Homo sapiens: one gene and its partner. The protein of the gene in region 1 purifies or fractionates together with the protein of each later gene. This does not show direct contact. Each region holds a gene or a part of one and is shown on either strand. Other genes may lie near its edges.

Region 1 (4,845 bases):
TTGGATCCTTGGAATGCACCTTTATTCCTGTGACAGGTTCTACCCTGTGCTTGTTGTTTCCCTGACCCCTGCCTCACTCCTTGCATAATAGCAAAGTCACTCAAAGTTGTCATCCAAGTCTTGATGTTTTTTTTCCATGATCTGGGCCAGGAAAACCAGCATCTCCCAGAGGCTGTGATCTCACTGTGGCAACTTCCTCCCACCTACCCTAATTCCACCCACCTTTGGGAGTATTCTTGTCTCCAGTGGACTCCTAAAATGACCACTCAGGCTCAGACAAATGAGGGCCACCTCCTCCGGTGATTAGCACCCCTTATTGATGTTCCATTATTCTTGTAGCAATAATTATTTCAAATGCAGCAGATGAGCAAAGGGAAGCTCTGGCTGGGCAGAACCAGCCCGTAGCTATGTGATTTCAGCCAGAGCAAAACGACAGACAACATTGCCTTGAAATGTGCCTTTTGGAGACAGAGGTAGGGTAGCCCCAACTTCCCCAAAATCAAAATTAATGCAATTAGACAACGTGTGACGATCATAGGGACTTTCAGGGTATTGATGTTATATGCTGATCGTCACCTCTAAATTTCCAACCTAAATTCTTAAAATCTTCTAGGACACTTTCATTTGAGTGAAAATCTTTTTAACTTTATAATTCATTTTAATTTTCAAAAGAAATGTAAGCAGTTTCCCATTGTTAACAAAACCTAAGAAATATTTTAAAAAGTAATTAAAAGGTGATCATATATTTACCTCCTGACTTCCTTTATTCAAGAGAAAAGCAAACACTAGTTTGTTGAAGCTACCAATTTCAGGTTTCTGCTACTGACAGATAATAGAATGAGACAACACGGCTGTGTATTTTCTATAACCAAAGCCAGCAAAGACTTAGAATATGAGGTTTATACTTTCCCAAGCAGATGTAGAGGAATAGAATATTAGAGGGGAAGGAGTGAGCTAGGTGAAGGGAAGAGGACCACAGTGAGAACAGGAATAGATCTCTGAGACAGGCTCTGGCTGCCAAAACTCAGGGAAGGAGATAACAATACAAATGTATTTGTTTTCTGTTGCTGCTGAAACAAATTACTATAAACTTCATGGCTTAAAACAACACAAATGTATTATCTTACAGATCTGGAGGTCCAAAGTCCTACAAGGGTGTCACTGGGCTAAAATCAAGATGTTGGCAGGGCTGCATTCCTTTCTGGATGTTTTAGGGGAGAATCGGTTTTCTGGCATTTGCCAGCTTCTAGAAGCAGCCTGCCTTCCTCAGCTCATGTCCACTTCCCTACGCAAAGGCAGTACAGGCCAGTGGTGTTTTTCTCATACTGTATTGCTCTCACACTGACTCTTCTGCTTCGTCCACATTTAAGGGCCCTTGGGATTCCACTGGACCCACCTGGATAATTTGGGACGCTCTTCCTATCTCAAGGTCAGCTGATTAGCAATCTTAATTCCACTATACTTTAATTCACCCTTGCCATGTAACAACATAGCCATAGGTTCTAGAGATGAGGATGTGGGCATCTTTGGGTGACCATTATTTGCCCACTACGAAGTCTATTCAGGTTTGGAGACATGTACCCTGTTTCTTCTCTGGTACCCTGGAAGCTTTGTTAGCCTCCATAAGCTCTGTGTACTGTCATGGGGAGACAGCAGTCAAGTAGACATGAAAGTGAGGCTGCCAGTGATTTCTGGGCCTCAGGGATGAGCATGGAGGTAGCTGCAAGAGCTAGCAGGCCCCACAGGGACCGACTGGTTAGGACAGTGAGGCATGCGTGAAAACCACCACGAAACCCATGATGGGACCAGATGAGGATACAATGCCTCAGAGCACGCCAGCGAAGGCCAGATAAGATTGCTTTCAGCAATGTCATGAGGGAGCTGCTGATGACTGAGGAGGCCCACCCCAACATTACAAAAGCCCTCCTGGAAGGGAGAAGGAACAACCTCTGAATTGATCCCCAAACATCTAAATTGGCTCAGAAAACACTGAGGTTACTGTGAAAACCCCGATTCGACTAAGATGAAGTTTCTGTCACTAGGCTGGAGGGGAATTTGAGATAGAAATTAAGTTGTTGTAGAAAAACAATGCAAGTTCATATTTCACACCCCTGATTTTGTGCTGAGTTGTGCCTGCTACGTATAAATTGGGACAGTGTTTCTGTATCTGCCTTTCTGACAACAGCATTGGGAGAGACTCCTTATTTGCAAGCACTTGGTGAAATAAAAGCTCACTGTAAACCTATGTTTTCCTCCTAAAGCCCCTTGGGTGACATGGACATTGAAGTCAAACCCTGGAGGGAGAAGTATGTCACATTCTGTTGAGGCTGTTCCCTCATAGTTATTTTGAAACCATCACATTTTCAGCATTTCTTTTAAGACCAAGTAAAATGTTAAATATAAATCCCCACTCAGCTCGGTGCCTTGCTCAGAGGCATGACTGCAGGGGGGCGCAGGCTGGGTGGGGGCCGGTGCCCTTCCTAGGTGGGGAGCAGGCACCTCACTTGGGTCATCCTGAGTCACCACCTTCTGCTCACAGTCGCGCTCCCACATGGTGCCCTCTAATGATTTCTCATTATAATCTTAACAACTATCAAGTCCACCAATTTGCCCTACAAATCACTGAAAGGCGCCCCTTTGGAAGAAAGTGGTCAGGGGAAGAAGTCACCAAGAGCTGTAAAATTTGAGGCTTCAGGAGATTTAATTGCAATGGTTTGGCCTCAGCTTAGAACCTCCTGCTAGACTGGTGATGGTCTTCCCTGGATGCTGGAGGTCCAGGCCCTGACACTGCGGAGACAGGGCATTGGGCCACCTGAGGGGCTGACCAGCTTTCTGGCTTCCTCACCATGAGCCAGTGATACTATGGCTGACCCCATGTGTTGGGCCCAGAGCTCTTGGGCTTATTACAGAGAGAGTGATTGTGATCAGTGGGCTAGGCAGTACAATCTGAATGGTTAATATGTATGTTTTGTTTTGTATTTGAAGTAAGGGAAAAAATAATTATTACAGTATCAGTAATAATATTAACTAATATTTATTGAATGCTTATTGTGTGCTAGGTACCAGGCTAAAGTACTTTATATACATTATCTCGTTTAATCCACATAAGAGCTCTGAGGGGAAAGAATGATTATTATCCTTATTTTAAAGATGAAGAAGCTGTGGCTTAGAGAGGTTAAGGTTCCCTGCCTACAGTCACTCAGCTTGCAAATGACGAAGCCATGGCTTGAACCCCGGTCTGTCTCTCTGGCTCCAGAGCCTGGGTGACCGGCAGTATTAATACCACTGCTGGAGGGAACATAGCTCTGACATTTGAGGGTGGATCTTTCTTGGAACCACGCTTTCCTACCCTAGCAGCTATTAGCAGGCCAATAATTGAGAACTTACTCTGTACAGGGATAGGGTGGATCTGGCTTCAGGAATTCTTTGGGGTAGAGATGGGAGGGACTTCTGGACCCTTGAGTCCCTGAAGGGGCTCACATAAGGCTTAGCTTATGGGAGTGAGGATAGTGGGGTGGGGAAATAGAGCTCAATAATACTGCCTTATATAAACCAGACTGACATTTTTCAGTTTATATTGTCCATGGACTATTACAACAGAAGCATTTTCCTAAGGATAAAGCTACATATAGGAATATTAATTACAGATACAGCTCATTGGTTTATGCAGTCCCTTCCTAACAATTTGAGGTGATTCTTGTGATCCTGGAATCTAAACATGGCATCAGTATCATGTCCTGGACAGAAGCAGACATATGGTATAGGAGGGGTGCAAACCTTCTGGATGTTACATAATAGCAGCAGCAGGTAGGAGACAAAATATCATATGGTTTTCATAAATAGGAGGAGATACATTCTCCTTATGTTGTGAACATTTAAAATTCAGTCTGTTGTCAAGGCATTGGGCAGGACTGGTGACATTCTGTCTTTCAGACTCTCAGCTCTAGTGGTGGCAAATTTGATGTCCCATCAGTCTGCACACTCTGGAGGGTAGTTTAAAGCCATAGTTTCATCTCTGAGCTGTTGGGTGGGATAGAACAGAGGAAGAGACATTAGATGTGGGTGAACAGCAAATCTGACCGTGGAGATCTCAATGCTTTGACAAATGCAACCACAGAAACACAAGGCTCTTCTTTTTTTTAATTTTAAAGGGAACATGGGTCAATTCACTGTCATTTAAGATGGTGTGACTAAATTCGGGGCATTTGATGTGTCTATTATCCCTTCTTCCTCAGAGGAAAGGAGTCTGGGGCGATTCCTCTTCCCTGGGACCCCAAGAAACCTCTCTGCATTCTCCCTAGCCCAGTCTTCTCCTTCCATTTTATGAATTCACTACGTTTTCTGTAACAGTGCTGCCTCCACCACTGATGACAAAGCTCTGTGAACTGGACACTACAAGTGCTGGGGACAACTCTTCAGGGTCCTCCACCTCTGGCCGCTGGTCTCCACCCACAGGTCCTTGCAGACCTGTTTCCTGGACGGTCAGATCTAAGTCCGTTTCCCCGCACTGCAGCGGGAGTAATGGCTCGTGTCGGGTCAGCGTATCGCTGCTTTTCTGGGCCTCCAGGGAGTTCTGGTGCGTAGAATTCCTGTGGGCCATGGCGTTCTTCTGAGGCTCATCAAAGCTCAGTGAGAAGGTGACCGTGCCGCTGCCAAAGATGACCTTCTGCTTGCATCTGGGCTGCTGCTGAGATCGTTGCTGCTGTGGGAGGGTCAGGGGCTGCTGCTGCTGCTCTTGCTGGGTTAGGGCCAGCGGCTGCTGCTGCTTCTGCCTCTCGGGCTGTGGGAATGGGTCTTCGCTGTTGCTCTTGCTGCTGATGGAGGAGGAGGGGGTGGATCCCGTGG
Region 2 (4,845 bases), on another chromosome or scaffold:
TGTTTTTTTTCCCCAGTCACTGAAGATGTGTGCTTAGTTACATAAAGTACATTAATATTTGTGTTTATAAAATAATACAATATTTATAGTATAATGTTTATATATGTGTTTAAATTGTGACAGCACTGCATCCACTTGAGGCTCTTTTTTATAGCTACTAGGAGGTTTAGGCACTTGGAGTTAAATTTTAAATGAACCACATATTTTTCATTTTTGTTAATGTAGTTTTCCCATTTTATGCAAATAAAATATTTAATTGGCTCTCCACTCCTGCCTCTGTCCCCTTACCGCTACCACCCTAAGAGATTATCATTGTTAACATTTGAGGACATGGTGTTTTGTAACCTGTTGTTTTTTCTTAATATGACAATGGCCCATATTTTAGCAGTAAACAAAAAGATACAGAAGATGAAAGCTTAGCCAAACACTGTAAATAGAAATGGGAAGCTTTTTCATATCGGGGAACGGTGGCTTAATTGATTCTTGGGGAATGGGGGATCAACTAACCATAAACAATTTCATTTAGGATTTTTGCATCATGAGGGTATTTGGAGAGAAATATATCATCCTATAATGTGCACAGTAAGTTTTTCCTAATTTGTTGCTTTGAGGAAAGACACAAAGCAAACTAAACAGCCTTTCATAGATAAATAAGTATACAGAGAGTGAAAGATATGGGTACAAGTATATAGAGACCTATCAAAAATACATTGCTTGTGGTATTAATTCTCATGTGTGATTTTAGCATATTAAAAGGCTGTTTTGTGTTTTTAGAACCATAAGAATAAATGGGGATGTTACCTTTCAGTTTGTTCCAAAGATTGCATGCATCATTACCAAAGCTTGAGTCTTTTTACTCCCCTGTCTTGTTGAGATACCTACTACTTGAGCATACTCTGGAATGAGAAAGTTTATCGATTAACATGCTGCTTACGCAGATAGGATTAGCATTTCCTTAATTTAGTATACCACGTGTTGTATCAGGCATAAAAGCCAGCTTTTTTTAGTCATACCCCAATGTTTAAAATTGTTAAATGCAGACTTCATGTTCTTTTGATCATTTAAATCATGACATGGATATTTTTAATTTTTATATTCTAGTAATTATCAATTGTCCTGGTCTGGCTGCTTAGAGTATCAGTTTGCTCAAAATTGCTTGAATCATTAAAGCAAATACTAATTGTGAGCATTGACCAGATCTTAAGTTAAAAAAAAAAAAAAAGCATCTTTGGTCCTAGAAGAAGTGCTAAGGAAACCTGAATTAACTGATAAAGCACAGGTAAAGTTTGACCATAAAACTTGTAGAAAGAATGGAATATAGCTTAATGCTTATAATGTAAGACATTGGAACAAATACTTAAATTCAGTGGTTAGCACTATAAATATCTTTTCTTAACTGTGAGTAGTTGGAAAATATAGCTGGCTAATAGTAATTACAAGTTACTATTTAAACAGATGCCAACATGCAAAGTAGTTGTATAATTTTCCTAAAGTTATGTTACACTTGATTTTAACTTGACGCCATTGTGCATTGTAACCATATTATTATACAAGGAGCATAGACCAACAACAGTTGAGTAAATGGGTGAATAAATGAATAAAAAGGATAAACACAACTAATTTAAAAGTCATGAGCATAACTAACAATGATTGCTTTTATTCTGAAACTGTTTTCCATGGTTTATAACGTTCATAGCCATATGACCCTTCCTTAATCTCTTCCTTCCTTCCTTGTATTTTGGGTACTGATTCTTTGCAAGGTCCATCTCTCTTTTGTGTGAAGTAAAATACTGGGAAAAGGCTGCTTTTCTAAAGATACCTGTTTTGCTATTTTTATAGTGCTTATAACTGATGTAATTAGAAGAAATAAATTCATAGTGCTTTGGATATAGCACCTCAGATTAATATCAAATTGTCACCTCCTGTTAGTGTTCATTCACTAAAGGAATAGTGTACAGAACGTGTACATTTGAATTAAGGGAAGATGGTTAGAAAAGTTCTGGAACCGGGAACTACCATTCAGAAGACTTCTATGGGACCAGGACAAAGACAAACTTTACGTAGTTCACAATTTGCCTAGAGCTGTCCTTGATTCTCCTTTCTCTTTTTATTCTTTTTTTATTCTTTGTTCTCATTGTTTTACTACTATGTTTTAAAAATGTTTATAACTTGATATTTTAATGTAAAGTATGTTTTCTTAGAAGGGAAGAAAAAATGCTTTATATACTAAAAACAGCAGGCTGAAGCTATAAGTTAACAAACTACATCTTAAGATTTTTTGACAGTGCTACAATTGGTAAACTGCTAGAAGTTATTTTTAGACCAGTTTTATGTACTTAATAGATTTCTCTGTGTTCCCAATAGCTGATGATATAAAGCCATGTCCACGATGTGCTGCTTATATAATAAAGATGAATGATGGGAGCTGCAATCACATGACATGTGCTGTTTGTGGTTGTGAGTTTTGTTGGTTGTGTATGAAAGAAATCTCAGATTTGCATTATCTAAGGTAAGCTTATAGAAGGAGCTATTTATATGTAAATGTAATTTTATATTGTAAGACAAAATAACTTGTCTTAAATTTGGGTTTTATAAGATACTTAAAGGGATTGGTTTTATTCTAGTTAAATAAATTTAAAAGAAACCAAGTTATTATGCTAGTCATTTGGAATTAATAACTAGTCAAAATAGGAAATGGATATTTCCTTTTTTTGTTTTTGTTAAACTAGAATGCTAGTAAGTATGTAATACCCTGTGTAATTATGCTAGACCCATAAATACTTTCATTTAATTTTCCCATACATAAATTTTATCATTTAGGCACAGAGTGAGTTTATGATATAATCAGATAATTGATGCCTAAAAATATGCATGTTTTGCATTAGTTTACTATTAAAAAACTGACTTAAGGGTTTGAGGATAATGGAGGACTAGGGATAAATTTTTAACCTGAATCTCAGTTATCAGTATCTTGTTAATATAATTTACAGTGGTTCTTACCTTATACTTCATTGAATTTTCCCATACATAAATTTTATCGTTTAGGCTACAGAGTGAGTTTGTGATATAATCAGATAATTGATGCCTAAAAATATGCATGTTTTGCATTAATTTACTATTAAACTGACTTAAGGGTATGAGGGTAATGGAAGACTAGGGATAAATTTTTAACCTGAATTTCAGTTATCAGTATCTTGTTAATATAATATAGATTAAATAATAAAATATAATATAAAATAAGATATATCAATATCTTGTTAATATAATTTATAGTGGTTCTTACCTTAGTTTAATGAACTCAGAATTTAAAGGGGAAAAAAGCTCCTAACTATGAGAAGTTTTTAAAAATAGTCATTGTTTTAATATAGTGCACTAATTTGTTATTGTGGTGTTTTGCAGCAGTTATTTACATTATAATTTTTTCCGTTAGTCCATCAGGATGTACTTTTTGGGGGAAGAAACCCTGGAGCCGAAAGAAGAAAATATTGTGGCAACTGGGAACACTGGTTGGTGCTCCTGTCGGAATCGCTTTAATAGCTGGCATTGCTATTCCTGCAATGATTATTGGCATTCCTGTGTATGTGGGCCGCAAGGTAAAATGCATACTTCTTGTTAGTCCATTATCTTATTCTAAATCTTTAGGTGTATTCTTTTAGTATTGATGATTTTTGGGTTTTTTTTTTTTTTTTTTTTTAGACAAAGGGTATCTTTAGTTTCTTCAGTATAAAACAGTTACTCTTTTTTCATAAATTTTTAGTGTTTGGCAAGCATATATAAATACGTATAAAGCAGACTTGCTTTAAAATGTTCTGAATCTGAAAATTTTAGTATGTTTGTATTATAAAACTTTGAGTATAAAATATTGAAGGATACACACCTGAGATTTTTCTCATAGGTATATCCTTGTAAGGTCAGGTCTATGAGATCTTTTTAATGAAAGTTAATAGCTAAATAACACATGCCCTCAGGCAAAGAATAATTAGCCAGTTCTTGAATTATTTCTGCTGTAGTTCAAAGCTTTTTTTTTGGATTACTGCTTTTAATAAATACACTATTTTGCAAATTATAACAATCTTGTGAAAGTCCAAACACCAGTGACTACCACTGGCCTCTAATTGATGAATTATATTTCATTAGCTAAGCAAATAGTTCTTTTGTTAAGGGTTAATGGGATAATTTATGAGGTCCTAAGAAGTCTGTTGTTGCCTAAATTAATAGAATCTCTGGATTGAGAAGTAACTTTCAGTAGAATATAGCTAAAAGAAAAAAAAAAGAAATTTTCTTTGGTATCCAAGAAGATCAAAAAAATTAAAACTTTTTTTAAAAAATAAAAAGAAATTAATCCCAACCTTGTACCCAAGCAGAACAAAGGATAGCAATTTTCAAAAAGGGAACTAACAGGCCAGGTGCGGTGCCTCACCCCTGTAATCTTAGCACTTTGGAAGGCTGAGGCTGGTGGATCATCTGAGGTCAGGAGTTCAAGACCAGCCTGGCCAACATGGTGAAACCCCATCTCTACTAAAAATACAGAAAAAATTAGCCAGGCATGGTGGCAGGTGCCTGTAATCCCAGACTCGGGAGGCTGAAGCAGGAGAATCACTTGAACCTGGGAGGTGGAGGTTGCGGTGAGCTGAGATTGCACCATTGCACTCCATCCTAGGCAACAAGAGCAAAACTCCATCTCAAAAAAAAAAAAAAAGAACTAACAAGCTGGGCATGGTGGCTTACTCCTGTCATCGTAGCACTTTGGGAGGCTGAGGCAGAAGGATCACTTGAGGCTGGGAGTTCAAGACCAGCCTGGACAACATAGTGAGACCCCATCTCTCAAAAAAATTTAAAAATTAT

What was found. The genes of interacting proteins can lie anywhere in the genome.
Region 2: the proteins of CASR (region 1) and RNF19A purify together in Homo sapiens (affinity purification with western blotting, with the first as the bait; one study listed by BioGRID). This does not show direct contact.

The regions. Positions count from the first base shown.
Region 1 is NC_000003.12:122,284,668-122,289,512, reverse strand, and holds part of CASR (extracellular calcium-sensing receptor isoform 2 precursor), read right to left. Parts: coding exon 4,322-4,845; 3' UTR 1-4,321. UniProt on the Homo sapiens protein: G-protein-coupled receptor that senses changes in the extracellular concentration of calcium ions and plays a key role in maintaining calcium homeostasis.
Region 2 is NC_000008.11:100,267,533-100,272,377, reverse strand, and holds part of RNF19A (E3 ubiquitin-protein ligase RNF19A), read left to right. Parts: intron 1-2,364; coding exon 2,365-2,509; intron 2,510-3,430; coding exon 3,431-3,593; intron 3,594-4,845. UniProt on the Homo sapiens protein: E3 ubiquitin-protein ligase which accepts ubiquitin from E2 ubiquitin-conjugating enzymes UBE2L3 and UBE2L6 in the form of a thioester and then directly transfers the ubiquitin to targeted substrates, such as SNCAIP or CASR.